Linked DNA regions of Homo sapiens: regions 2, 3, 4, 5, 6 and 7 are each linked to region 1. The links come from fine-mapping of genetic effects on gene expression. A gene starts in region 1. Each other region holds a variant in brackets. All regions are shown on one strand. Distances are from middle to middle.

Region 1 (4,068 bases):
CATCTTAAAATCTGATCCCAAGTGTGGGGCCTAGTTGGGGGTGTCTGGGTCACAGGGGCAGATCCTTCAGGAAAACTTAGTGCTGCCATTGCATAATGAGTTCTCATTCTGTTAGTTGCCTCCAGAGCTGATTGTTAAAAAGAGCCTGACCACTACCTCCCCTTTCTCTTGCTTCTCTTCTGGCCATGTGATCTGCACAGGCAGCCTCCCCTTCACTGAGTGGAAGCAGCCTGAAGCCCTCACCAGAAGCAGCCTGCAGAAGTGTGAGCCAAATAAACCTCTTTTATTTGTAAATTATTCAGTCTCAGGCATTCCTTTTTAGCAACACAGACTAAGACACTATCAAAGAACAACTGAAAATTTAAAATGTCATTTACATAATATCAAGAAGTATATTTTTCCCCCATCCTTAGATTTATGGATAAATCTGACATAGGGTGATATGGTTTGGCTGTGTCCCTGCCCAAACCTCATCTTGAACTGTAGTTACCATAATCCCCAGGTGTTGTGGGAGGGACCCGGTGGGAGGTAACTGAATCATGGGGGTGGTTATTCCCATGCTGTTCTCTGATAGTGAGTGAGGTATCACAAGATCTGATGGTTTTCTAAGGGGCTTTTCCCTCCTTGCTCCTCACTTCTCCTTCCTGCAGCCCTGTGAAGAAGGAGGTTTGCTCCCGCTTCTGCCATGATTTTAAGTTTCCTGAAGTCTCCCCAGCCATGCTGAACTGTAAGTCAATTAAACGTCTTTCCTTTATAAATTACTCAGTCCCAGGTATGTCTTTATTAGCACTGTGAAAATGGACTATATAAGACTAGACCTGACAAAAGATCAAAACATTTGCTGAGTGAAATAACACCTAAATAAATGAAGAGGCTTACTTTAAGGGTCATTACTAAATATTGTTAACATGTAAATTATTCTTACATGGATCTATAGACGAAATGTAACCAATCACAATCCCAACTTTTTAAAGTGACAAGCTGATTTTAACATTCATATGAAAACCCAAGGGACTAGATGAGCCAGAACATTTTTGAAAAATAACAAAAAATTGGAGGCCAAACACGATCTGATTTTAAGACTCTTACGAATCTACAGGAATCAAGACAATGTGGTATTTTTGTAGAGAGAAATATAATAAATTGTCGGAACAGAATAGAAAGTCTAAGAATAGACCCACAACTGATGCTTTAGGGACAACTGATTTTAAACATAGGTGCAAAAGCTATTCAGTGAGAAAAAGAAAGCTCTCTAAACAAATGACACTATTCACATACAAAAAAATGACCTAAGATCCATACTTTGCACCACAGACAAAAATTAGCTCTAATTGGATCACAGACCTCAATATAAAACCTAAAATTCTAAAACTTGTGTCAGAAAACACAGAAGAGATCCTCTGTGGCCTTGGGTTAGGCAAATTCCTTGGACAGACAAAAAACAAACCCTAAGATCCGATCTGAGCCGCCGCACAACCCTGCTCTGGCCACTTAGCCTGAGGTCACTGCTCGGGTCCCGCCCCTCTCCCCGCCCGGGACCCTCCTGGCTCCGCCCCAATCCGCCCGCTCCGCTCCACCCCGCCCCGCTGCCTCGTCTCCATCCGGAAGAGCCGCCGGGGCAGGGAAGTTGAGGCGGTGCGCGGCCCGGCGTCGGTCGAGAGCGCAGGCCCGGCAGAGCCGCAGGCGCTAGGCCGCCCGACACAGCCCGCGCGTCCCCGCGGCCGGTGGCGCCTCGAGCGGCCACGTGCACGCGCGCACTCCGCCTCACCAGCCTTCTTGCGCCGGAGACGAACCCGCTGCCTGGCTGGAGCTCTCTGGGCCCTTCGGCCTCGGGAGCAACGCGTTCCCGGCGACTTCTGACACAGCCAGTAAGTGATAGCCGCCTCCTCCTTTCGCGGTTATGTTTTTCTCCAGTTCGTCCCAAGTCTCGTTCCCGTCTCATTACTTCAAAAACTATTCAACTCCGGGACCGGACAGGCACGGGAGCTGCCCGGGAGAAGAGCCCCAGAAGTCTCAGAGACTGCCAAGGTGTTGTGGGGCAGGGGCTGCGTGCAAAGACCCTGTGAATTAGAAAGTTTGGAAAGCATGCCTCCAAAACCGAGCGACTCCACGTTTGCCAGGCGCCCCTGGGGCAGCCGAGCGGCCCGGAGGCGCGAAATGGCGCGCCCCCGCAGTGAGAGGGGCGGAGGGAGTGGGGCGGGGCCGAGGGCGCGCGTCCCGCCAGCCCGCGCGGAGGGGGCGGGGCTCCCGGCAGGTGCAGGCGGGCGGGGCGGGGCTGCCGCGATTCCCGGAGACAGCTGGGGGATGCCAGTGCAGTTAGGCACTCTCCTGTCTTCTTTTCGACGCTTCGCTGTGGTCAAGAGGACAAAGTAAAGCAAATGATTTTATTTTGACCCCAAATATTCAATAAGAAAAGGAAAGAGAACTTGAAAGTTGTGAAATGACCCTTCTCAAAACAAAAAGTCCCTCCAGTGTCTATCTGGGTGGGTAGTAGGTACGTTTATTGATTTAGCAAACTGCTGATAACACAGTTGATTAGTCAGTTTTGCATAGATGTTGAAAGGGAATGAATAACGATGGTCCATATAACCATAGAAATGCTAGCCTAACTAGGCAAAATTTAATCTGACCTTAATTTGAACGTTGAATTCTGCTGCTGCCCTTTTCCTGCCTTGTGTGGAGCTGTTTTTCAAATTGCTAAATTTGTGGCTCTAAACTTAATATGCTTTAATAGAATCATAGTGATTCTCTTGTAGCCACTGTTGGGAGTCCAGATTTTTTTTTTTTTTTTTTTGGGCAAAGTCCACATTGTGGAGATATTCCTTCCCAAGTGCTTTTTCTGCTTTACACTTGGCTGAATTTATATTGCTTAACCAAAAACAAATTACCGTGGAGGCCGTAATTTATTTCCACTCATTGTTTTGGATATACATTTACTCATTCTTACTCTCACTCTGGCCTCCTATAGTGGTCAGGATTCTTGACCTAACTGCTATATGTACTTCTTAAACGTTTCACACCTTGCGGAATAGTAGGTTCTCAGAGAAAGCAAAATATAGCAAATAGCGTGTATAACACGTACTTAGGATGATAAACTGTGAACTTTATAGCAGTCTCCTTTAATATTCGTATTTGTAGAGTCCAGTACAATAAATGTTGGACAAATGAAGTAAGTCAAATTTAAGTACACCTCTTCTCCAGTCCTCAATCTCTTTCCAAACGAAATAAGTGTTTCTCTCTTTTTTTTTTTTTTTGAGGCGGAGTCTCGCTCTGTGCCCGGGCTGGAGTGCAGTGGCGTGGTCTCGGCTCACTGCAAGCTCCGCCTCCCGGGTTCACGCCATTCTCCTGCCTCAGCCTCCTGAGTAGCTGGGACTTCAGGCACCTGCCACCACGCCCAGCTAATTTTTTTTGTATTTTTTTTTAGTAGAGAACGGGATTTCACCGTGTTAGCCAGGATGGTCTCGATCTCCTGACCTCGTGATCCACCTGCCTCGGCCTCCCAAAGTGCTGGGATTACAGGCGTGAGCCACTGCGCCCGGCCCCAAATAAGTGTTTCTTATTTGGACAGCTGGTTTCTAACTGTCCAGTGCTACTTCTGAGATCGTCACCTCATTTAAATTTAACCTCCCTCTCCTTTGACTCCTATTCATATTGCATTTTTGACCACTGGTAGTGCACTGTTTCGTTTTATTTGCCCCTTGGATTTCTGAGGACATAGAGAACCTTTTACTATACTTTTCATTTGCCAGCATAGTGCCTTGTACATGATAGATATTAGGAAATGGACATTGAATTGGGTTTATACATATGTAATTTGTTATCCGTCTGTATACATGAAACTAGAATGGGGATAGGTGCTTTTTATCTGTAGATACATACTTTTTAATAGAGTGCCAGGGGAATGAGATAAAGTAATGGTATATGCTGTATTTATTTTCAATAATACTTTTTTATTATTTGAAGACTCAGTGTTTTTTCACCTTCCTATGTTTATCTGTTTTCTTTGCATTGTTGACAGCTGTTTCTGCAGAACCCAGTAGATTTCCTACGGTAAGAAAGAGAAAGAAG
Region 2 (4,068 bases), 60 kb after region 1:
TCCCAATCTGTTGCTTATCTTTCACATTTTCTTAACATTGTAGAAGAACAAACATTTTTAACTTCAGCGAGGATCAACTTATAATTTTTCTTTGAGTACTGTGCCTTTGATGTCATATGTAAGAAATCTTTGCCCAACTCAGGGTCACAACAGTTTTTGCTTATTAATTAATAAAATTTGTTTTTTAGAGTAGTTTTAGGTTTACAACAAAGCTGAACAGAAACTATAGTTCCTATATTCTCCCTCCCTGCCATGCATACAACCTTCTCTAGTGTCAGCTAGTTTCAGAGTGGTACATTCATTACAACCGATAAACCAACAATGACACATCATTGCTACCCAAATTCTATTATTTACATTAGGATTCACTCAGTGTTGTACATTCCATGGGCTTTGGCAAATGTATAATGACACATATCCACCATTATGGTATTGTACAAAATAGTTTTACTGCCCCCAAATCCTCTGTGATCTGCCTGTTCATCCCTCATCCCTCTTTCCCTTCAACCCCTGGCAACCACTGATCTTTTAAATATCTCCATAGCTTTACTTTTTCGAGAATGTAATATAGTTGGAATCATACAGTATGTAGTATTTTCAGATTGGCCTCTTTTACTTACTAACATATGCTATTAAGGTTACTCCATGTCTTTTCATGCTCTGATAGCTCATTTGTGTTTAACAATGAATGATATTTTATTGTCTGATGTATTACAGTTTATCCATTTACCTACTGAAGGACAAGATGGTTGCCCCCAAGTTTCGGCAATTATGAATAAAGCTTCTGTAAACACCTGTGAGCAGGTTTTTATGTGCATATAACTTTCCAGTGCCTTATGTAAACACCATGGAGCACAGCTGCTGGGTTGTATGGTAACGATCTGTTTGCTTTTGTTAGAAACTGCCAAATTGTCTTCCAAAGTGGCTGTCCATTTTGCATTCCCAGAAGCAATAAATGACAATTCCTGTTGCTCCACATCCTCACCATCACTTGGTGTTGTCAGTTCTTTGGATTACAGTCATTCTAAGATGTGTAAAGATGTCATTATTATTATTATTATTATTATTTTAATTATTATTATTATTTTTTTGAGACAGGGTCTCACTCTGTTGCCCAGGCTGGAGTGCAGTGGTATGAACATGGCTCACTGCAGCCTTGACCTCCTGGGCTCAAGTGATGCTCCCACCTCAGTCTCTTGAGTAGCTGGGACCATAGACACATGCCACCATGCCTGGCTAGTTTTGGGTATTTTGTAGAGACAGGGTCTCCCTGTGTTTCTGGGCTACTATTGAAACACATATTGCTCAAGCAATATGCCTGCTTTGGCTTCCCAAAATGCTAGGATTACAGATGTGAGCCACTGCGCCCAGCTTTTGCTGGAAGTTTGATTAGCTTGGGTTGAATCTGTAGAACAAGTTAAGAAGAACTGACATCTTGACAATATGAAGTCTTCCTATTCATGAAAATGGAATATCTTTTCATTTATGTAGTTCTTCTTTGATAACATCAGACTTTTCCTCTTGTAAATCTTGTAGGTATTTCATTCATTTATACCCATTTCATTTTGAGGGGGACTAATGTAAATGGTAATTTTGTTTGTTTGTTTGTTTTTGAAACGGAGTTTCACTCTTGTCACCCAGGCTGGAGTGCAATGGCGCGATCTTGGCTCACTGCAACCTCTGCCTCCTGGGTTCAAGCGATTCTCCTGTCTCAGCCTCCCAAGAAGCTGGGATTACAGGTGCCTGCCACCATGCCCAGCTGGTTTTGTATTTTTAATAGAAACGGGGTTTCACTATGTTGGCCAGGCTGGTCTCGAACTCCTGACCTCAGGTGATCCACCCGCCTCAGCCTCCCAGAGTGCTGGGATTACAGGCGTGAGCCACTGTGCCCGGCCAATGGTAATAGGTAATGTATTTTTAATTTCAAATCACCTTGTTCATTCTTGATATATAGGAAAGCAATTGACTTTTACATATTAACCTGCAACCTTGCTATAATCACTTATTAGTTCCATGAGTATTTTTTTCTCAGTTTGTTCAGACATCCTACATAGATGATTATATTATCTGCGAACAAAGAGCATTTTATTTTTTCCTTCCCAGT[C/T]GGTATACTTTTTGTTCCTTTTCTCATCTTATTGTATTAGCTAAGACTTGGAGTACAAAGTTGAAAAGCAGTGATGAGAAAGGACATCTTTACCTTGTTCCTGATTTTGGTGGGAAAGCTTCAAGTTTCTTACCATTACCTTTGATGTTAGCTGCAGATTTTTTGTAGAGAGTCTTTATAAAGTTGAGGAAGTTGCTCCTCTATTCTTAGTTTTCTGAGAGTTTTTTGTGTTGTTGTTTAATCATGAGTGGCTGTCGGATTTTGTCAGATGCTTTTTCTGCATCTATTGATATTGTGATTTTTCTTTGTTAGGCCGTTTTATCAACGGCCTGATGATTATATTAATTGATTTTTTATTTTATTTTTTTGAGACAGGGTCTCATTCTGTTGTGCAGGCTGGAGTGCAGTGACTCAGTCTTGGCTCGCTGCAACCTCTGCCTTCCAGGTTCAAGTGATCCTCCCACCTCAGCCTCCTGAGTAGCTAGGACTACAGGCATGCACCACCATGCCCATCTAATTTTTGTATTTTTTGTAGAGATGGGGTTTCACCATGTTGCCCAGGCTGGTCTTTGAACTTCTGGGCTCAAGCAATCCGCCCACCTTTGCTCCCAAAATGCTGGGATTATAGGCATGAGCCACCACCCCCAGCCTTAATTGATTTTTTTAACGTGATTATACCTAGGATAAATCACACTTGTTCATGGTGTACAATTCTTTTTATGCATTGTGGACTAGATTTACTAATATTTTGTTAAAGATACTGGCATCTATGTTCATGAAAGATATGGACTGCAGTTTTCTTGTAATGTCTTTATCTGGTGTGGTATTAAGGTAATGTTGGCCTCATACAATGAGCTAGGAATCATTCCCTCTGCCTCTGTATTATGAAAGAGATTGTAGAGAATTCATGTCATTTCTTCCTTAAATATTTGGTAAAATTTACCAGTGAACCCATCTGGTCCTGGTGTTTTGTGTTTTGGAAGGTTATTAATTACTGATTCAACATCATTAGTAGATATAAGCCTATTCAGATTGCTTCTCCTGGTTGAAGTTTTGGCAGATTGCATTTTTTAAGAATTGGTCCATTTCATCCAGGTTATCAAGTTTATGGGCAGAGTTGTTTGTTTATATGTTCTTTATTATGCTGTAATGTTCGTGGGATCTGTAGTGAGGTTCTTTCATTTCTAATATTTGTAATTTATGTCTCTTCTATTTTTGTCTTCATTATCCTGTCCAGAGGCCGATGAATTTTATTGATCTTTTCTAAAAACCAGCTTTTGGTTTTGTTGATTGTCATTGCTTTCTGTGTAGACTTCCTTTCTTCTCTTCTCTTTTCTCTTCTTTTCTTTTCTTCCTCTTTTCCCCTTCCCTTTCCCCTTCCCTTTCCCTTTCCCCTTCCCTTTCCCTTTCCCTCCCCTCCCCTCCCCTCCTCTCCCCTCCCCTCCCTTCTTCCCTTCCTGTCTCACTGTGTTACCTAGGCTGGAGTTCAGTGGTGCAGTCACAGCTCATTGCAGTCTGCACCTCTCAGGCCCAAGTGGTCCTCTCACCTCAGCCTCCTGAGTAGCTGACACTACAGGTGTGTGCCACCATACCTGACTAATTTTTAAAATAATTTTGGTAGAGATGGTGTCTCACTTTGTTGCTCAGGCTGGTCTCTAACTTCCGAGCTCAAGAGATCCTCTCACCTCAGCTCTGCAAAATGCTGAGATTACAGGCGTGAATCATTCCACTTGGCCTCTGGTTTTCAATTTCACTGATTTCTCTTCTGATTAAATTTTTTTTTCTGCTTACTTTGTATTTCATTTGGCCTTCCTTTTTTTCCCTAAGATGAGAACTTAGATTATTGATTTTTGTATCTTCCTTCTTTTCTGGTGAATTCATTCAGTAGCACTAATGTCGCTCTAAGTGCTTTTGCTGTATCCTACAACTTTTGATAAGTTGTGTGTGTGTTTTTTTTTAGGTTT
Region 3 (4,068 bases), 150 kb before region 1:
GGTAAAAAAAATCTGGAATGGGTGGAAATCTGAGTGGGACCTGATGAATATCAGTTATGGCCCTTTGAGCAGTTGCAGCAAGGGACATTTGCTTGCTACACTAAGTCTCATCTGGAGTCCTTTTAACAATCAGAAGCTAGCTATGACCTTAAAGAGTTGGTGACAGAATGAATTTCATATAGAGCAAAAATGGATCTGAAAGGTAAGGGATAGATTGTAGGAGATACTTTTGATGTCTTGTGCCACTTCTTTTGATTTCAGCTGCAAAGGTGTTGGACAGTTCCTATGCATGCCACAGTTTTCCCTCAAGCACCTGCTGGATCTCTCTGCCTTCCTGACTCCCACTCTCTCCAAAGCCACAGGAGTTCACTAAGCTCACATTGAATAACCAGACACACAGAGATGTTAATTCCCCTGGCAGCCATCCTCGATCAGTGAGTGAAAGGAGACAGCAGATAAATGTGTTAGCCTTTCGTCTTTGCTAGAGAAAATTCTGAGATTCATTTTACAAGATTCTTCAGAGATTGAGTCCCAATTGACCAAAGTGGTAACCAACTCAACAATGTGTCCTTCAATGGCTTTTCCTTATCTCTCTCATATTCTTGCTTTTCAAGATCACCTATCAAGTAAACTTATTCAGTCCCTGCTTGCAAAGGAAGCCAAGTAGATGGATAAACCAGTTGGCTTCTGGTTGATTGTGATATTCATAGAAAGGGTTGGCTGTGTTGTTAGAGAAAAAGCTAATGATAGTGTTGGTTGAGAAAATGAAGTTAACTAAAAATTGGAAATAAACATTTATTGTGCATGTATTATGTATCAAACATTTTAGAAGGTTTTCAATATCATTATCAGTTGATGATAGAGATGAGTTTTCTGAATTCATGGGGAAGAAACAAAAATAAGGAAAAAAGAGAAAGAAGCACATAGCAAGAAACCAACAAATCATAGTCAAACTCTTTTATAACGATGTTTACCAATATGCAGCCATCTAGATTAACCACTTATCTAAAGAAACAAGAACCACCTTATTTAGGCTTATTTTGTGTACCATGCTTTGGGTGTGTTAGGAGGTGGAAGTGAGAGTTGGAGCATGATTGATATGTGGTATATCCATACAAATACAACAAAATTCTGTTCTAAAAATATGAAATAATGGCTGGGCATGGTGGCTCACACCTGTAATCCCAGTGCTTTGGGAGGTTGAGGCAAGAGGATTACTCGAGACCAGGAGTTCAGGACCAGCCTGGGCAATGTAGCAAGATCCCATCTCTACAAGAATTAAAAAGTATATATTCCCAGCATTTTGGGAGGCCAAGTCAGGCAGATCATTTGACGTCAGGAGTTTGAGACCAGTTGAAACCCGTCTCTACGAAAATACAAAAAAAAATAGCCAGGTGTGGTGGCAGATGCCTGTAATCCCAGCTACTTGGGAGGCTATGACAGGAGAATCGCTTGAACCTGGGAGGTGGAGGTTGCAGTGAGCCAAGATCAAGCCACTGCACTCCAGCCTCGGTGACAGAGTGAGACTCTGTCTCAAAAAAATAAAAAAATAAATAAATAAATAAATAAA[G/TAAAG]AGAGAGAGATAATTAAAAAAAAAAAATAGGTGTTAGCTATTTGGGAGGCCGAGGGTGGGAAGATTGCTTGAGCCCAAGAGTTCCTGCCTGGGTGACAGAGAAAGATCCTGTCTAAAATAAATAAATAATAGAAAATATTAAATAATTCAACATGTAACATGAGAGAGATATAAGAAATACTCAAGATCATTTAGTCCAATCTCCTCATTTTACAAATGAAGAAAAGAGGTGGCTTAGTGGCAACATGAGACCCAGAATACCAACCAAGATTCTGATTCTCTTTTCATTATACATGGAAACTTGCACCAAGAGAAGAGTTGTCATTTAGAAAATGTTTAACTCAAAATGTTTTCCTTATTTGTGTGAAGTCTTACAAAAAGCTAGTATGATTATTGATTCCATTGGAGTTCAGTTGCTTGTACACAGTCTATAGTGATTCTGAGTCCCTTATACCTTGCTCTATGGCCTTAGATTGAGTCCCATTCAAATACTGAATGTTCCTAAGAGGCATAACATTGAGATGCAAATAAAAGACCTGAAAAGTACCTTTGAGATCACCTGGCCAACCCCGAAGAAGTTTTTGTAGATCTTTAGTACAGGTGCTTTTGTAGATATTTAGTATCATTTTCCATTGACTGCCTAACTTGGTCTCTATGATTCTTCTGGCCAAAATGGGAAGAAAGAATAGAAAAAAGAAGAAAGAAGAACATTTCCTCTACCTCTTTCTTTCAAATCTTATATTTAGACGTCCTCTTTAGCTAACCATGACCTTGGATAGGAAATGTCTATTTCATCTCCATGAGGAAAGCAGTGAATAAATGTTTATTGATTGATAGAACAGCATTCTCTGATTGTCTGTTCACTGGAATGCACTTCCCATAAGTAGCAAGAGTACTTTTCATCGATGAATCTTTTCTTAATTGTGGCAAAATATAAATAACATAAAATTTAGCATTTTAACCATTTTTAAGTGTATATTTAGTGCATTAAGTAGATGCACACTGTTGTACAACCATCACCACCATTCATTTCTGGACCTTTTTCATCTTCCCCAGTTGAAACCCTATACCCATTAAACAATAATTCTCCATTCCCTTCTCCTTCTAGCCCCTGGAAACCACCATTCTACTTTCTGTCTCTATGAATTTGAGTGTTCTAGCTACTTCATATAAGTAAAACATCATATGGTATTTGTCCTTTTGTAACTGGCTTATTTCACTTAATGTAATATCTTTAAGTTTCATTTATGGACCATGTGTCATTCTTTTTAAGATTGAATAACATTCTGTTGTATATACCACATTCTGTATATCCATATTTATCCATCAATACACATTTGGGCTGCTTCCATCTTTTGGCTTCTGTGAATAATGCTGCTGTGACAATCGGTGTACAAATTATCTTTTCAAGTCTTTGCTTTCAATTATTTTGGGTATATACTTAGAGGTGAAATTTCTGAATCATACAGTAATTCTGTCAATTTTCTGAGGAACCAGCATACTGTTTTCCACAGTGGCTGTACCATTTCACATTTCAACCAGCAATTTCAACCACAGGGATCCCAATTTCTCCATGTACCACTTGTTATTTTTCTGTTTGGGTTTGTTTTGTTTTTTTGATAGCAGCCATTCTAATGGGTGTGAAGTGGTATCTCATTGTGGCTTTGATTTGCATTTATAATTAGTGATGTTTTGACCATCTTTTTATGTGTTTATTAGCCATCTGTATATCTTCTTTAGAAAAATAACAATTCAAGTCCTTTGTCCATATTTTAATTGGGTTATTTGCTTTTTGTGTTGAGTTTTAGAAATTCTTTATATGCTCTGGATATTAATCCTTTATCAGAAGCATGGTCTGCAAATGTTTTCTCATATTTCATGGGCTACCTTTTCACTCTCTTGTTAGTATCTTTTGACGCATAAAAGTTTTTATCTTGATGAAGTTCAAATTATCTGTTTTTTCTTTTGCTGCCTATGCTTTTGGTCCATTAACTGTTGAGCTCACATCTCAATCCTAATTTTAATTCTTAACCTTAACTGCTACTGCCTGGGGTTAATCTAGGTTTTCTGGGGCCTGAAACATACACAATTTGGGAAGGCCTAAAAAATACAAAGAATGTTATTTTTGTAAATTTTACTTAATTTTATAACCATGTATCGTGTGCTAGGAGCCTCCCCTCCTTGGAAAAAATCAGGCAAACTTGACAGCTCTCTGTTCCTCAGCCTCAATGTCCTGTCTGTTTTACCTTATGGATATTTCACATCCATCCTTTTTTGTTCCTACTCTCACTGCCTTATTTTAGGTCAGTGGTTCATCATCTCTCACCAGAATAAGTGCAATAGCCTGCTAACTAGTCTCCTTGTTTATAGAGTTGTCCCATAATCGATTTTCCACAGTCAAAAAATGATGTAACTAAAATGAAAATACGATTATTTCATGTTCCTGCTTAAAGCCCTCCAATGGCTCGTGATTGTCTTCGGGACAGAGACCCAATCCT
Region 4 (4,068 bases), 74 kb before region 1:
AAGGCTGTTTGAACATGATATCAAAGTTGTGAATTGAAACATGGAATATTTGTACAGTTAAAGCTAAAACTTCTTTATATCAAAACACACCATAAGCAAAATTTAAAAAGAGGAAAAACTGGGAGAGATGAAGAGACTGACAAATTGACCAATGAAGAGTTCATGTCTTTAACACTTTTAAGAGTATTTACAAAACAATAAGAAAAATACAGACACCCAGATTATCTTTTTACAAGCTAAAAATAAGCAGGAAAAAATAATTTGTATAATTTAAGAACTGGAAATGAAATCAATGAGATGCCATTCCATCACCATAAAATTAACAATGATAAAAAAATTGAGACCATGCAGTGTTAATAACGATAAAGAAATAAGCACTCAGAAACTGCTGATGGGGATTCAAAATTGTATAATTTTCCTCGAAAGGGATTTATCAGCACATATGAAAGCCTTAAAGACAGGCATGTCCTTTAACTCAACAGTTTCATTTTTTTGTGTATTTAACCTAAGCAGATAACTACGGATTGTTGACAAAATTTCAGCACTGTTTATAGTAGAAGAAGTATAGAAAAACTTAAATTTTCTCTGAAGTCTGCTGCCTGGAAGAAAGGGAGTCTTCTCCCAGTTCACACAAGTTTTGTTTGCTTCTCTTTCCATGTTCTGGGGCTGCTTCCACACTGAGGGGTATTGCCTTTTTCCTGCTTAGAGGCACACATGGCCTAGCAGCTGCCTTGGTACAATACAAGGTCAAGAAAGTGAAGGCATTTAGGGTCCTTCTAGGAGTTAAATACTTTCATTCTGAGATGTTAAAGAGATTTTATTCTTAATTGCTAGTAAGTATATACGAAGTTTTTCTGTAAGTGACTCATTCATTTATTTAATAAATATGGAATGCCTATTAGGTACCAAAGCACTGTTACACACTGCGGTTTCAGTGATAAGTCAGTCAGACATGGTCCCTACTACTATGGACAGACAGACACAAAAACAAGTAAACACAAGTCTGAGGCATATTACAAAGGGTGGTAAGTAATTAACAAGGGCTCGTCAAAATAATAAATTTAGGAAAGCTTATGCAAACGCTCTGAGGCATGAGAAATTTCTAGGAATTGTAAGAATACCAGTGGTATTAGTCTGTTTCATGCTGCTGATAAAGACATACCTAAGACTGGTTAATTTACAAAAGAAAGAGGTTTAATTGGACTCACAGTTCCACATGGCTAGGGAGGCCTCACGAACATGGTGGAAGACAAGGAGGAGCAAGTCACATCTTACATGGATGGCAGCAGGCAAAGAGAGAGCTTGTGCAGAGAAACTCCCATTTTTTAAAAACCATCAGATCTCATGAGACTCATTCACTATCACAAGAACAGCGCAGGAAAGACCCACCCCATAATTCAGTCACCTCCTACTGGGTTCCTCCCTCAACATATGGGAATTGTGGGAGTTACAATTCAAGATGAGATTTGGGTGGGGACACAGCCAAACCATATCACCAGAAAAAACGGAGTGTGATAGCAACTATAATAATATTTATTTAGTGCTTACTGAGTCCCAGACTTTGTTTTATATAGCCTCTTTATACTGTTCTCTCCTTTAATCCTCACAGCAACCCTGTGCAGTAGGTACCAGTTACTAAAGCATAGAAAAGTTAAAATAACTTGCCCAAGTCAGCACATAATAAGTAGGTAAAGCCAGAATTCCATTTCAGGTAGTGTGCTTTCAGAACTCAATTCTTAACCCTACTCTTTCTCTCAATTAGTATATAAAGACCAAGAAGAAGGGATGCCATGCTGAGGTTGGAGATTTCAGCAGGGGCTATGTTGTGGAGGTCTTGTAAGCCCCATGAAAGATTTTGAAAGTTATCCTAAGGGCAGTGAAAAACAGTTGAAAGATGATAAGTATAAATATGTGGATGCTTGTGCAGTGGATGGGGCTTATGCTCGTGTCCATATTTGTAATTTATAAAAAACTCACTGTAGTGTTGCAAGGAGAGTGGATTAGAGAAGAACAAATAGAGGTAGACGGATATTTCAGGGAGGAGGTTTCTACTTACTGTATTCCCTCAGTTTGTACATTAATATGGAGAATCTGAGTATTTATTTCTATTGCAAATGACAGAAATCCTACCTCAAACTAGCCTAAAGAAAAAAAAATTTATTGACTCATGTGACTGTAAAGTCCAAGGATAATGTTAGCATCAGGCAAGACTAGATTCAGAACTGAAATTGTGACAATGGAACCCAGCTTTTCTTTTTCTCTTAAATTGGGTTTGTTCTTGTGTTGACTTCATGCTTCAATCACATATTCCCTGAGGTATACGTGGAGCTGGCAAAAAACCTTTTCT[G/A]GGAGCTCCTTTTAAAGTCCTGAGATCACTGTGACTAGATAAGCTTAAACCATGTGCCTGCCCCTGAACCAATCCACATACAAACAAAATGAGATGACCTTATTGGTTTACGTTTCAATGAAGCACTTCATTCTGGAGTTTAAGTTGAGCGCTTACTAAGACCACATGGACCGATAGAGAAGGCGAGTAGATGCCCCAAATGCCATAAGGAGATTTTGTTATTGGGAGACAATAGGTGTTTTCCCCATGTATCCATTTTTATTGTATTTAAGAAAACAAACTGATCAGTTATGTTCAACACTTATTTGCTTTTTATATTTTATTACATTTAACTTTGCAGAAGTTTGAAGTTTTTGCCTATTTAAATATTCTATCTCTAGATTTGTAATTGCCTTAATAGACCTTCTCTTTGAATTCTTTACATTGTTACTAGAATACTGTTTTTTTTTTTTCTTGAGGCAGAGTCTTGCTCTGTTGCCAGGCTGGAATGCAGTGGCACAATCTCGCTCACTGCAACCTCTGCCTCCCAGGTGCAAGCAATTCCCCTGCCTCAGCCTCTCAGGTAGCTGGGATTACAGTCGCGCGCCACCACACCCGGCTACTTTTTGTATTTTTAGTAGAGACGGGGTTTCGCCATGTTGGCCAGGCTGGTCTTGAACTCCTGACCTCAGGTGATCAGCCTGCCTCGGCCTCCCAAAGTGCTGGGATTACAGGCATAAGCCACCGCGCCCAGCCCTAGAATACTATTCTTTATAATTTATTTAATGGAAGAATTTTACCAAACTTTTAAAAAACAGGTAATTCTTTTGCTGTGAAAATATTTCAGAGCACAGAAAAGATGTGTAGCTCCCCTAATTATCTTATGAGATTAGCATTCCTTTAGAGACACCACCAAGATAAAATACTACCACCACCAGTATTGCAGAGCATATACCTGCATAGAGAGGGGACAGGAAGGCCGTGCACTTGGGGAGGGAATTGTGGGTCAGAGAAGGATTGAAGGAGAATTTTTGTATTTTTTTTTTGTAATGTCTGTATTTACAAGGAAAAATAGGTATTATTTTTAAATTACCAATTTCAACTTTTGTAGAAATTTCATAGGCTTGGCCATTTTATAAGAATGCGGTTTTTACTTTATAGCATTGTCCTAAATAATTTGAAATATTTCATGTATGTATTTTAGTATTCATAACTTTATGGTAGGGATATGCTTAATCAGCAATTATCTATTAGCTTCTAATTTCGAGTGTATAAATTCAACTCTTAAAGATTTAATGAGAAATTTTGTATGGAAACACAGGAATCATAACTTACTCTAGTTTATAATACATTTACCAGCTTATCAATATTGACCTAAATTTATCCCCTTTGCAAATAGCAGGAGATATGGACTCAAATGAAATATGTGATTAAATTTTAAAGGATGGTTTTTAAGATATTTTTATCTAAAATTTTGTTTTACTCTTTTATATAATCTTTATCTTGCTTCAGCTTCTTATAGGTATTTTATTATATGGTGGAACTAGGAATTCTCTTTGTTAAACAAAGGTATATCTATTCCTTTACATGGTTGTCATGAAAAAAGAAGATCTTAAATGTGAAAGTCTTTTCAAAACACAGCAGAAGAAAGCTGTCATGGTTATTTGAGTGCTTTTTCCAAATTAATCAGGAAATCATCCATTCAGTAAAATTACAACTAAATAAAAAACTTTAGGAAGAAA
Region 5 (4,068 bases), 41 kb after region 1:
CATCTTTCAAAATTTGCCCTATATATGTATGTGCATTTATGCTCTATATAGGTTTAAAAAAAAAAAAAAAACGGGGGCACATGTTAAAGTAATAATTGTGATTACCGAAAGGAGATAGGGCAAGGCACTGAGTACAGAGAACTGTTAACTTTATATATGCCTGTACAACTTTCTAAAAGTTTATTACAATGAATATATATTGTTTTATAATTAAAATTAACCTTACATATGATATATACATTTTAGAGATTAAAAACTAGTTTTTAAAATGAAAAGTTTTACATGCCACGATTACCTAAATCATCTTCAATGCATTTTTTACATATACTTCTAGTTCAAAGTATGTCCCTCATCGATGAAGTTAAACTATTTCCCCTTCAAAACTGGCAAATGAAGCACTGAATTACTTTAGTAAAAGATAATTAAAGCAAAGATAATTGTCGTTTTAGCTTTCTAAATATTTATTACTAAAGATATTAAAAATACGTATTTTTAAGACCTTAAAATATATGTAGAAAAAATACCAAGAATTCTTGGACTGACATGAGGAGTTGACCTTAATTTCCTAGCCTACGTTTGTGTTTTATGTTTAGGGTGTGTTCTGTATTTGGATGTGGAGTTATTTTAGATTTCAACACGGTCTTGAAGAAAGTCTTCCTTCAGACTATTTATAAGGCAGAGATTAAGTCCTGGAAATTATTTAAGTATCTTATTTCTGCTTTTAGGTTAAATGTAACTTCCTACCTCAGCTCTATTTCTCTTCCTGAAATTAGCTTTTCGTCATTAGGGGAAAGGAGTCCACGTTGGTTGGGGAGCCTGCGCGCCAGCATCCCGGCGCATCCCGGGCGCCGGCCGAGGAGGACCGGCCGAACAGGACCCACGGCCCCCGGGGAGCGCCGGCGCCCAGCCCGCGGCGCGGAGGGGCCGAGCCTGCGCCCGCCTCCCCCGCTGGTTGGTCGAGGAAGCCAGAAATCAGCGCGAGGACAGCCTCGCTCTCCTCCCCGAAGCGGCCAGGCATGGCCAGCCCGGAGAGTGCGGCGACTCCACCGTGAGCTCTCGAGAGTGCCTGCCTGCCTTTCGCCGGGGGCAGGCGGGCGGCGGGGCAAGAGGAGGCGCCGTGCGCCGGGGTCGCTGGCCCAATTCTCGACTCGGGGTAAGATGGCTCCGCTCCGAACTCGCCGGCGCGACCACACGCACAGCCTCTCCCTTCCCAGCCTCCGTGCTCGGGCCCGGAGGGTCGCGGAGGCTGTTGGCGGCGCGGAGCCAGCCCGGCGCGACCTCAGGCGGCGCAGCGGGAGCGAGTGCGGGTCTCCGAGCTGCCCGCCCGCAGACAAAGCTGACAACATGGCTACCTCCGCTCCTCCGCTCAAACAAGTTCCTCGCAAGTTGAGCCCGGCAGGCGCCTGGGCTGCGGCGGAAAGCCGCGCGCGCCTCGGCGGCCGTCGTCCATCAACTTCAAGTTTCCCTCCGCAGAGCAGCCCGCGGCCGCCAGGCGCCGAACACAGCCGCCCAGCGCGAGGCCCGGCCCGGGAAACTTTCAACGTCTGCAGCCCGCAACTGACAGCCCGGGCGCACGGGCGCCGCACTCACCTTCAGACAGGTCCTCGATGCACTCGAAGGTGATCTCGAACTGGAACGGGTTGTAGAAAGGAGAAGGGTTATCCAGCACCACTACATTGTTCACCTGAACCTTTGCCATATTTTGAAAAAAACACAAACAATGGGAACTGGGGCTGGTTGCGGCACAATAAAGTCCAGCGCGCGGCCGCTCGGGAGAGCGCAGACCCCCGCTCCAGCGCCGGCCAGACGTCGTGCAGCGGCGACTTGAGAAACTTTTTTCCTCTTTTTATTTACACGGGAGCACTCCACAGTGTTTTGCAGCTTTCCTATTTCACTAAACTACAGCCCATTCTGCTCTGATAAGTAGCAGCGTTGCCCTCGATTGGCTGCACCCGAGTTCTGACCCTCCTCCTCCAGCGAGGGCCTCGGCAGCCAGCAAGATGGGCTCCCGCTCCCGGAATGGACTCGGAAACTTTAACTGCGGCTCCACCTGCTGGTG[T/C]GGATTAGGACAAAGGCGGAGAACAAAGTGAGTGGAATAAGGGCTGGGAGGCCCGCGCGGAGGCCGCCGGCGGCGGCGCGGAGAGGGGCGGAGGGGGCGTGGCCGCGGCGGGGAGGCGTGGCTGCGGCGGGAGGGCGCGATCCGGCCGACGCCCGCCCCTCCAGTTGGCTTCGTGTGGGTGTTTTGGCGTTTTTTTGTTTTTTTTTTTGTTTTTTTGGTTTTTTGATTTAACGCTCTTTTTACATCAGTGCAACAGCTTTGCCGGCCTTGCTGAATTTAGCAGATGAGAGTCGGTGTTTACACTGGGTTAGGTTCAGCTTTCTGCGTATCGGGTAGTATTTGGAGTAGAGAGAAAGATTGGCTGCAGGGGAAATAAATTGCATGTTATAGACCGATGTCAGCTCGAAAGGAGCAAAGCCATTTTGGAAATCTAGCTCTTGGCCAGTATCTACGTTTAGGCACGACAGCGCCGTTAAGCAACACAAAATGAAGGGCGAGGAATGATTTTCTACACACTGTGCTTGGAAAATTTAAATAGGTAACCTTTGGGCTTGCACCTGGGCGTCTTCTTCGGAGTCCAGATCTGGGAAGTCCTAGAATAAAAAAAAATCACAAGAGGTGTGATCAGTTATACTTCAGGTTACTGCCATTTGGAGAGCATAGCAGGAACATAAAAGGAGAAAATGGAAGTGTTAGGAGACCAACAGGGCAACAAACGTAATAGAGATGGGAAAAAGAACACAAAGACATAGCAAGACATTTGATCTTCAAAAAAATTTCTGACCTAAACCGTTAGTAAAGCAAATTCTGAGGAGCCCTTGCTTGCCTGTAACCAGTTGAGGTCTGAACTGAGGAAATGTTGATTCGTTTATGCTGCTTGGCTACCATTGCGGGGAAAGAGAAAGCTTTAACATATTTGTGAGCCTAAACCGTTTCTATTTAGTAAGTGGTATAAAGGTTTGTTTTATTATCTGCTAGCCATAAACCATCATTTTTTTCCTTAAATGTTGTGAATGAAACCACCAAACTTGGCCAAATTCAGAGAGAAAATTAATTCTTAAGTATGTGTTCTGGAAGAGTTTTCTCTTAGTATAGTGCCCAGAATTTTGATTTGTCATTCTTTGGTCATTGTTCATACTTAAGTAGGTGGCTTTTGATGAAACGTTTTCATCTGATGGTCTTTTGAAAGTTAATGTGAGACAGCTAATGTCAACCCCTCGTACATTTAGGAAAACCGGTTAGAGTGGGGAAGAGTTCCCTTTTTTTGTCAGTGGATTGAACAGTTAGATATAGGACCTACCAAAAAACACTTCTTCAAGCCAGTTGTTTGTGACATTAGAGTATTAAGAGTCAAACCATGGTGATAGACACAGATTTTTGTGGCTGATAAACAACATACTCTTCATTCTTATTAGTGCTGGTCCTAACACTAGCAGATAAAGTGGAAATTGCTGTATGCTGTAAGACACTCTGTATATGTAAGATAAAATGACCATTTGAAGATTAAAACTCCTGTGAGACTGGTGTATGCAGTTGTCTGATTATTACAGGTACTCTTAAGAGGAGAGTCTAGTCAGTCTCATGAAAACGACATTTTATGCTTGTTAAAATCACGTGCATTTTGCAGTCTGACCGTAAGTGTTACAATGAGACTAGTTGTAAAACTCACTTTTGGTGGATGTGCAGCATGAAGGACTGAGAAGATCTACCTGAATGCCACTAATTTGGCTTATTTTCTTTAAAATTTTTTGTTTAACACATCATATGCAACAGTATTTAAGAAGAAAAAACTCCCCAACATTTCACTGGAAGCTGCAAGAATTAGCTCCAGGCTTCTCCTGTCTTAACTCTTGTATTATTGCTTGTCAGAAATACTAAAGGGTCGTTGAGCACTTTGTTCAATAGTTTCCTCACCATTGATACTACCTTACTCCAGGAGAGACCGAAAGGATTCCTCAGATATGTCCTGGCATATTTCTAATTTAACTGGTATGCTGTAGGAAAAAAAG
Region 6 (4,068 bases), 43 kb before region 1:
GCAGCAGCACAATCATGGCTCACTGCAGTCTCGACTTCCTAGACTCGTGATTTTTCCACCTCAGCCTCCTGAATAGCTGGGACTATAGGCGCACACCACCATGCCTGGCTAATTTTTTAATTTTTTTTTTTTTGTAGAAACAGGGTCTCGCTATGTTGCCCAGGCTGGTCTTGAATTCTGGGGCTCAAGCAATCCTTCCACCTTGTCCTCCCAAACTGCTGGGATTACAAGGGTGAGCCACTGTGCCCAGCCTGTTCAATATATAGACAAAATACATTGAATCAAATTGGTTTCATGATGATTTCTTTATTCTACTGAAATGACCCTAATTATTTTTTCTAATGTTGATTATCTTATGTCTAGTTTTCTTGAAAATGAACCTAAAACATTTTGTATTTCTTAAATAATAACTGAGTTTTAGTAACTGTTTTCTATTTTGTTTGCATTTTCCTTCCTATATTCTAGCATAATAATTTGAATTTGTCTTGTTCTAGGCTCTTGAAAATCATTTACAACAGAAGCATTCTGCAGAGCTTCAATCACTAAAAGATGCACACAGAGAGTCAATGGAGGGCTTCCGGATAGAAATGGAACAGGAACTTCAGACTCTTCGGTTTGAATTAGAAGATGAAGGAAAGGCTATGCTTGGTATTTTGAAAAGATTACAATCTTGTCATATTCATATGTACATTTTTAACATTTTTTAAATTCAACATAAAATCACCAAGTTTTATTTTAAAATTTTGAAACGTCAAAATGAATATCTAAGTGTACTGCATATTTTATTTGAAGTTACCACATGAATAGGCAGGACACAAACAGTAAAGTGAATTCCCCTCAGCTCTCTCTGTACTCCAGCTATGCAAGCAACACCACTGGTACTCTAATCTGTCCTTTTTGGACTAAGTGGACTCAGGACATTGAGGTGTCCCAGAAATCAATCACTGCTCAGTAGAAAGGACATGGAGCCACATGTCCTTAGACTGCATGGTCATATGGTTTTTTACACTTCAAGATTTTGTTTTAATGGGAAAAGTCAGTATTAGGTCTGACTCTTCTGTTGAGGTATATATTTCTTTGAGATTTCTACCTATGAGGTGTTCACATCATTACTTTTTATAAGGAGGTAGGTTGAGTTTTGAAGAAAAACTGGATATGTATTTAAAGATTTGTTTTGGGTTTTGTTTTTTATGTCATTCAATAACTTTTTATTCTTACCATCTCATTTTCCTTCTGTTTGGCTTTATTCCAAATTATGCTAATATTTTTAACATGTTGTCATACTTCAGTGGCACACTCTTTCCAAGTAGGAATTTGGAGCAAAGAAGACTGAAGTGTTATCAATATTTTGGGCCTCAAAGGGAAAGCCGTCTGACCCTGTTTCTCATCGATAATGTTGCTGGGAGTCCCAGACCAAGTCGTTAAAGCTCTCCTCTTCCTCCTTTAAAACCCACTATGACTGCTAGCATGAAAATCAGATTAAATTTAGACATTTGTCAAAGATTTGTGAAAAGCCTTTTCATGTGCTAGAGATTGCTGAGCAAGGAGAATTAAAAAATGAACTACTGCCCTGTCTTTGCACAGGAATTGTAGT[G/C]AAATGTAGAGGTCGCCTTTATAGAAATGTGGCCAAAAGGGAATACACATTCCACAGCTTTGTCAGGGCAGGCAAAAACAGTCCCAGTGTTGGAACTATTGTTGTTTAGTCCATTGAAACATGCTCCACTAAACATGATTCAAATATGTCTTTGTTGGCCGGGTGTGGTGGCTCACACCTCTAATCCCAGTACTTTGGGAGGCTGAGGCAGGTGGATCACCTGAGGGCGGGATTTTGAGATCAGCCTGACCAACATGGTGAAACTGCATCTCTACTAAAAATACAGAATTAGCCAGGCGTGGTGGCGCATGCCTGTAATCCTAGCTACTTGGGAGGCTGAGGCGGGAGAATCGCTTGAATCTGGAAGGTCGAGTTTGCAGTGAGCCAAGATCACACCATTGCATTCCAGCCTGGGCAACAAGAGCAAAACTCTGTCTCAAAAAATAAATAAATAAATAAATAAAATATGTCTTTGTTGACAAAAAGAGTTTTGGGTCTTTAAAAAAACTTTTATTTTGAAATAATTGTAGATTCACATGCAGTTTTAAGAAATACTACAGAGATCTCTTTAACTAGTTCCTCCAGTGGTAACATCTTGCAGAACTATGGTACAGTATCACAACCAGTACAATGACGAAGATTCTGTCAAGATTCAGAACATTCCCATTACCATGAAGATGACTCATGTTGTTCATTTATTGCCACACCTATATTCCCAGTCCTCCCCTCCTATAACACCTGGCAACCATTACCCTGTTCATTTCTATGATTTTGTCAGGTTAAGAATGCTCTAATTTTATAAATGAAATCATACAATATTTAACCTTTTTGGGGAGAAGGGATAGGGTCTCACTCTGTTGCCCAGGTTAAGAATGCAGTGGTGTGCTATCAGCTCACTGCAACCTCCACCTCCCGGGTTCAAGCAATCCTCCTGCCTCAGCCTCCTAAGTAGCTGGGACTATAAGTGTGTGCTGCCACACCCAGCTAATTTTTGTAATTTTTGTAGGCAGGGTTTCACCATGTTGCCCAAGCTGGTCTCAAACTCCAGGCCTCAAGTGATCTACGGGTCTCGGCCTCCCAAAGTGCTGGGATTACAGGTGTGAACCACCACACCCAACAATATTTAACATGTAGAGGTTGGCCTTTTTTCACTCGGCATAATTATCTGAAGTCATCTAGGTTATTGTGTGTATCAACAGTTTGTTTCTTTTTATTGCCAAGTAGTATTCAGTGGTTTTGATCCACCGTAGTTTGTTGTCCTTTGCCCGTTAAAGATCACCTGAGCTTTTAGTTCTTAGCTGTTACAAATAAAGCTGCTATAAACATTCACGTACAAATTTCATATAAACATAAGTTTCATTTCTCTGGGATAAGTGCCTAGGAGTGCGGTTGCTGGGTCATATGGCAGCTGCATATGTAGTTTTGTAACAAACTGCCAAACATTTTCTAGAGTGATTGTACCATTTTCCATCCCTACTAGCATCATATAAATTTTGCTCACATCCTCACCAACATTTGATGTTGTCATTATATTTCATCCTTTCTGATAGGAATGTGTGATAACTCATTCTGGTTTTAATTTGCATTTTCCTAGTGGCTCATGATATTGAACATTTTTCAATATCATGAGAACATTGACCAGCCAGGCTCCTTTAGGGATATTTTTGAAGAATTCTTATTTGGGTGAGAAGTTGCCTCCTAAATATTTGTTATGGTACCATTAAACTCTAAAATTTCATTCTTTTTTTTTTTTTTGAGATGGAGTCTCACTCTGTTGCCCAGGCTGGAGTGCAATGGCGTGATCTCGGCTCATTGCAACCTCTGCCTCCCAGGTTCACGCAATTCTCCTGTGTCAGTCTTCTGAGTAGCTAAGATTACAGGAACCTACCACCATGCCTGGCTAATTTTTTGTATTTTTAGTAGAGACGGGGTTTCACCATGTTGATCAGGCTGGTCTCGAACTCCTGACCTCAGGTGATCCACCCACCTCGGCCTCCCAAAGTGCTGGGATTATAGGCATGAGCCCCCGTGCTTGACCAAATTTTATTATCCTAATAGTGAAAGAGACGAATTAAAAATACTTCATCTCCATTAGCACTTTACCTGCATACTGAAAGCATGTATAAAAATACCTTGATCCGCTTAAACATTTGAAATATTTTATATCCTCATCAAAGCTACATTAACTTTAAATTCATGATAGTATATTGTAGTCTGTAATATTTAAATTTGTCATAGTTTATAATCTATTAATTTAATGGACATACACAAGTGTTCTAATTTTTGAAATAATTTTTTACTTCTATAATTTTTATCTAAAGTATTGATAATATTTTTTAAATGTGCCAAATGTATTTTTGCCTTGCAATTCCAGCTTCCTTGCGCTCAGAACTCAACCATCAACATGCAGCTGCAATTGATTTGTTACGGCATAATCATCATCAAGAATTGGCAGCTGCTAAAATGGAATTAGA
Region 7 (4,068 bases), 50 kb before region 1:
AAAAAGTAAAAGGGGCTGGTAACACAATGAAATCTCTTTTATAACATTATAGTCATTGAGGATCACCTTTTTACTCTGTCATCATCCACAGCAAAACATGACTTTGTCAGAGTGCCGTGCTCTGCAGGATGAGCACCTGCCCACTCCCTCTGTACATGGTGTGTACCCCAGCTTTCCATACAAGAATTCAGTGCTTAGCACATTCAAAAACAAGTGACTGTTATTGATACATCTGTCCTTCATAGATAACTTTCTAATTAGTTTTAGTTAATAATAAGAGGATGATTGGGGACATATTCCACAAATTTTTTTTTTTTTCGGAGACGGAGTCTCGCTCTGTCGCCCAGGCTGGAGTGCAGTGGCGCAATCTCGGCTCACTGCAAGCTCTGCCTCCCGGGTTCACACCATTCTCCTGCCTCAGCCTCCCAAGTAGCTGGGACTACAGGCGCCCGCTGCCACACCCGGCTAATTTTTTGTATATTTAGTAGAGACGGGGTTTCACCGTGTTAGCCAGGATGGTCTCGATCTCCTGACCTCGTGATCCGCCCGCTTCGGCCTCCCAAAGTGCTGGGATTACAGGCATGAGCCACCGCGCCAGGCCAAATTTACTTTTCTTAACTAGCCTCCTCAGTAATAGCACATTAGTGATTAAAGAAGAAAAATAAATCATATAATTAAAATATTTGAGCACCTTTAAACATTTTACATGACCATTTTCGTTAAGTCATTGGCATAATAATAAGTTATTCCTACTGTCCTCTACTAAGCCTAGGTTAGCAGTTTTTTTCCTGAGATCTGCTCAGACTGATAGGCTAGCAGTTTTTAATGTTTTATATATTTGAAAGGATTGGAGTTAATACTTTAGAATTAGATTACTTTCTTGTCCCAGTCATAATTCATCTGTAGGTGCTACGAGAGGGGCTTACCTTCCAGGGATTTCCATTTAATCCCTGAATAAACCCAGGCAGCCAACTGGGAAGAAAGGAAGGAGGGAGAACAGCTGTTGTAGAAGTGAGGGACAGTGCCAGCCCTAGGAAGTCTATGTGGTTATTAAAAGGAATGGGTCATATCTGAATATCGTGAGTACCTTATAAATGCCACTTTGAAGGGAAGGAAAAAACTACAAAAACACAAACTGGCTGGCCCCTCTACTGGAAAAATTATTAAACATCATTAAATCCCTTGGCGTACTCATCTTGGAAGATATATAAAGTTGAGTGTGTGAAAACCACCTCATCCACATCTGCAGGTCAGGACACTCTCATGGTTTCACATTTGAAGTGGTGTTTGTTTCTCTATGTGATACTTACAGGATGTCTGTCCCCATCAGCTGCCCCAGGTGTCTCTGTTTCAGCTGCTATGGACATTAAGCACTGATCTTTTGAGGTGTGCCCTGGAGCCTTTGTAACTTTTGTATATAAGGCATAGCCAGCATTTTATCAGATATATCTCTACATTTGGTAAAATCATCTAGCCATTTACACATGATCTAGGTAAGAAAGCAAAAGAAAACAAAACGGTGAATTATATCAAGAGAGACCTAAGCCATTACAGTCTGCAGTAAGGCATACCAAAATATTAACACCAGTTACCCTTAGGGATTAAGTGAGGAAAGGGAATGAAGGAGACTTTTCCTTTTATTTATATGTTCCTGTATTTTTAAAATTTTCATAACGAACCACTTTTTACTTTGATAAATAGGAATAAAAATATCTTAGGCAGCCTGGGCCCAATTCCAGACCTGCTAAATCAGAATCTCAAGGGATCAGGGCACAGGCAACTGTCTTTATGAAAATCTGCAGAGATGATTCTGATACACAGCCAGGTTTGAGAATCACAGATTACGTTTACTATCTCAAGACATGCTTTATTTGGAGAACACATCATTTGTATACTTTCTGTATTCTTTCACTTTTGTAACAAGGCTCAATGGTTTTTGAAGAAAAAACACCGATATTGCATCAAAAACCAAAGGTTGTAGGTAAGATGTAGATAATTAATGACATGTCTCATATTGACATTCTGTCATACCCAGTACCTCAGATTTGATGTTTCACTTTTTGTTTTGAGAGAGTTCTTCCACAAACACCATTATAGAGGTACAGAGTCTTTGTGAAACTGGTCTGTAAAAAGTAGGCTGGGCACAGTGGCTCATGCCTGTAATCCCAGCACTTTTAGACACTGAGGCAGGAGGATCGCTTGAGCCCAGGAGTTCAAGACCAGCCTGGGCAGTGGAGTGATACCTCATCTCTAGAAATAATATAAAATCAGTTGGTGCATGTCTGCGGTCCCAGCTACTTAGGAGGCTGAGGTGGGAGAATCACTTGAGCCCAGGTGGTTGAGGCTGCAGTGAGCCATATATATAAATATATATAAATATAAATATACAAATATATATAAATATAAATATATATAAATATAAATATATATATAAATATATATATATATATATATTTTTTTTTT[A/TTA]AATGGAGTTTCGTTATCATTGCCCAGGTTGGAGTGTAGTGCTGCGATCTCGGCTCACTGCAACCTCTGCCTCCCGGGTTCAAGTGATTCTCCTGCCTCAGCCTCCCGAGTAGCTGGGATTACAGGCGCCCGCCACCACTCCCGGCTAATTTTTTGTATTTTTAGTAGAGACAGGGTTTCATCATGTTGGCCAGGCCGGTCTCAAATGCCTGACCTCTGGTGATCCACCCGTCTCGGCCTCCTAAAATGCAGGGATTACAGGCATGAGCAACCGTGCCCGGCCCATATATTTTTAATTTTTTCTTTTTGAAATTTTTATAAAACTTTAATATTCCATTTTCAAAAAGACTGTAAAACTTTATTTTCAAAAAGACAATCATTTTTTAAATGGTAGAGACAGGAGGTGGCAATTACTATCAGTGCAGTTTGACCTTTAAAATTGTCTCTAAAATGTCTGGCACCTATCAACCAGTAGAATATATTTCATATCTAAATTGCTATGCTAAGAATTTAAAAACTAAAGATTAAATTATTTTCTGAAATAAAATATTTTGGTTTATTTAAACAAAATAAGAAATAGAATTTTTTAAATTTTAACGAATGTATAGAAACTAATACCGTGCACTACATAATTTGAATATAATATATAGTTTGAAGCAACTACTTGTTCTCATTCTTTATTCAACACAAGCCTTTCTAGATATTCTATAATTCTGTAATAAAAATACTTACCAAAATTGCCTAAACCTTTTAAAGCAGAGGTTTTTTATCTTTTGAGTTAAAGTTTTACATTAATATGTATTTCTATTGATTATATTAAACTCAGCTGTTTAAATTATAGCTATAAAAATTAATTCACTTTACATTACTTTGCTCATTGTCTTTTAAAGTGCCATGTACTTTTCATGCTGAATAAAAGCTATTTATTGCAATTCTGCTAACTTGTTTTTAAAAAGAACAAAATAAATTTTGATATTGCATTGCATGATTAAGGCTTTCTGCATATAATTCACATTACTGTCTTGAGCATGAATTCAAAGATTTTCGATGGCCTTAATATTATTTTGATGTGCTTTCAAAGTTAAGAATACAAAATATCTAAGTATGTTTGAACACTAAATTGCATGATCATATCTTTCTGCACATAGTTTATATTATTTTCTTGAGTGTAGATACAAAGATTAATCACATATCCTAAGATGGAAAGTACTATTTTGGAGTTCTTTCAAGGTAAAGTATATTACAATGTAAAATATTTAAGTGTATTTTATTTTAGCTGGAGAAATTTAAAACTCTGTAGATTTTAAATATGTAACTATTATGCACTGTGGTACTTCCAGTCATTCACTTTAAATATTGCATTTCTTCATAAGTTTCATCTGTTAATAGGTCAAACGTGAGTCAAATTAACGTATGAGAGGTCTGTCGATTCAGCAAATTTTGAAGTAGGTATTGCAGAAAATAAGAAACACCACTGTGAGCTGATTGGTTTCCTACTAATTGAAGTACACACTAAATTTGAGGATGGGATCCAGGGCCACTGCTAGCCTATATGGCACCTTTGTGCAAAGCAGAAAAACATGTCCATTCTTTTTGGATGGACAC

Direction of the effects. Alleles are on the strand shown, and positions count from the first base shown. SD is a standard deviation of normalised expression in the study named. Not every link is listed here.
As copies of G replace TAAAG in region 3, the expression in neutrophils of the gene that starts at base 1,600 in region 1 goes up (large effect, 1.0 SD a copy in BLUEPRINT).

What was found. PIP is the estimated chance that this variant, and not a neighbour inherited with it, causes the effect.
Region 2: its variant is fine-mapped to the expression of MCM9 in whole blood (INTERVAL, PIP 0.93).
Region 3: its variant is fine-mapped to the expression of MCM9 in neutrophils (BLUEPRINT, PIP 0.95).
Region 4: its variant is fine-mapped to the expression of MCM9 in thyroid (GTEx, PIP above 0.99).
Region 5: its variant is fine-mapped to the expression of MCM9 in whole blood (TOPMed, PIP above 0.99).
Region 6: its variant is fine-mapped to the expression of MCM9 in whole blood (INTERVAL, PIP above 0.99).
Region 7: its variant is fine-mapped to the expression of MCM9 in lymphoblastoid cells (TwinsUK, PIP 0.95).

What each region holds. Positions count from the first base shown.
Region 1 is chr6:118,932,691-118,936,758 of GRCh38, reverse strand. MCM9 (minichromosome maintenance 9 homologous recombination repair factor) reads left to right here and starts at 1,600. Exons shown (of 14, transcript NM_017696.3): 1 at 1,600-1,868; 2 at 4,019-4,068. LOC124901389 (a long non-coding RNA gene) reads right to left here and starts at 1,844. Exons shown (of 2, transcript XR_007059729.1): 1 at 1,769-1,844. RefSeq lists silencers at 1,422-1,851, 2,102-2,351.
Region 2 is chr6:118,872,659-118,876,726 of GRCh38, reverse strand. The region is part of intron 8 of MCM9 (minichromosome maintenance 9 homologous recombination repair factor); the gene reads left to right. Among named protein-coding and RNA genes, the nearest start is that of ASF1A, 19 kb to the left of the region's middle. The variant C/T (reference allele first, on the strand shown) is at 2,105.
Region 3 is chr6:119,086,689-119,090,756 of GRCh38, reverse strand. It overlaps a transcript of FAM184A not described here. Among named protein-coding and RNA genes, the nearest start is that of FAM184A, 10 kb to the right of the region's middle. RefSeq lists an enhancer at 64-565. The variant G/TAAAG (reference allele first, on the strand shown) is at 1,571.
Region 4 is chr6:119,006,673-119,010,740 of GRCh38, reverse strand. The region is part of intron 6 of FAM184A (family with sequence similarity 184 member A); the gene reads left to right. All of the region lies in intron 1 of LOC124901389 (a long non-coding RNA gene), which reads right to left. Among named protein-coding and RNA genes, the nearest start is that of MIR548B, 60 kb to the left of the region's middle. The variant G/A (reference allele first, on the strand shown) is at 2,348.
Region 5 is chr6:118,892,045-118,896,112 of GRCh38, reverse strand. All of the region lies in intron 8 of MCM9 (minichromosome maintenance 9 homologous recombination repair factor), which reads left to right. ASF1A (anti-silencing function 1A histone chaperone) reads right to left here and starts at 1,961. Exons shown (of 4, transcript NM_014034.3): 1 at 1,591-1,961. The coding sequence starts at 1,699. RefSeq lists silencers at 767-1,296, 2,087-2,226 and an enhancer at 1,677-1,766. The variant T/C (reference allele first, on the strand shown) is at 2,060.
Region 6 is chr6:118,975,945-118,980,012 of GRCh38, reverse strand. It overlaps FAM184A (family with sequence similarity 184 member A), which reads left to right. Exons shown (of 18, transcript NM_024581.6): 11 at 495-648; 12 at 3,969-4,068. The region is part of intron 1 of LOC124901389 (a long non-coding RNA gene); the gene reads right to left. Among named protein-coding and RNA genes, the nearest start is that of MCM9, 43 kb to the right of the region's middle. The variant G/C (reference allele first, on the strand shown) is at 1,595.
Region 7 is chr6:118,982,545-118,986,612 of GRCh38, reverse strand. The region is part of intron 9 of FAM184A (family with sequence similarity 184 member A); the gene reads left to right. The region is part of intron 1 of LOC124901389 (a long non-coding RNA gene); the gene reads right to left. Among named protein-coding and RNA genes, the nearest start is that of MCM9, 49 kb to the right of the region's middle. The variant A/TTA (reference allele first, on the strand shown) is at 2,464.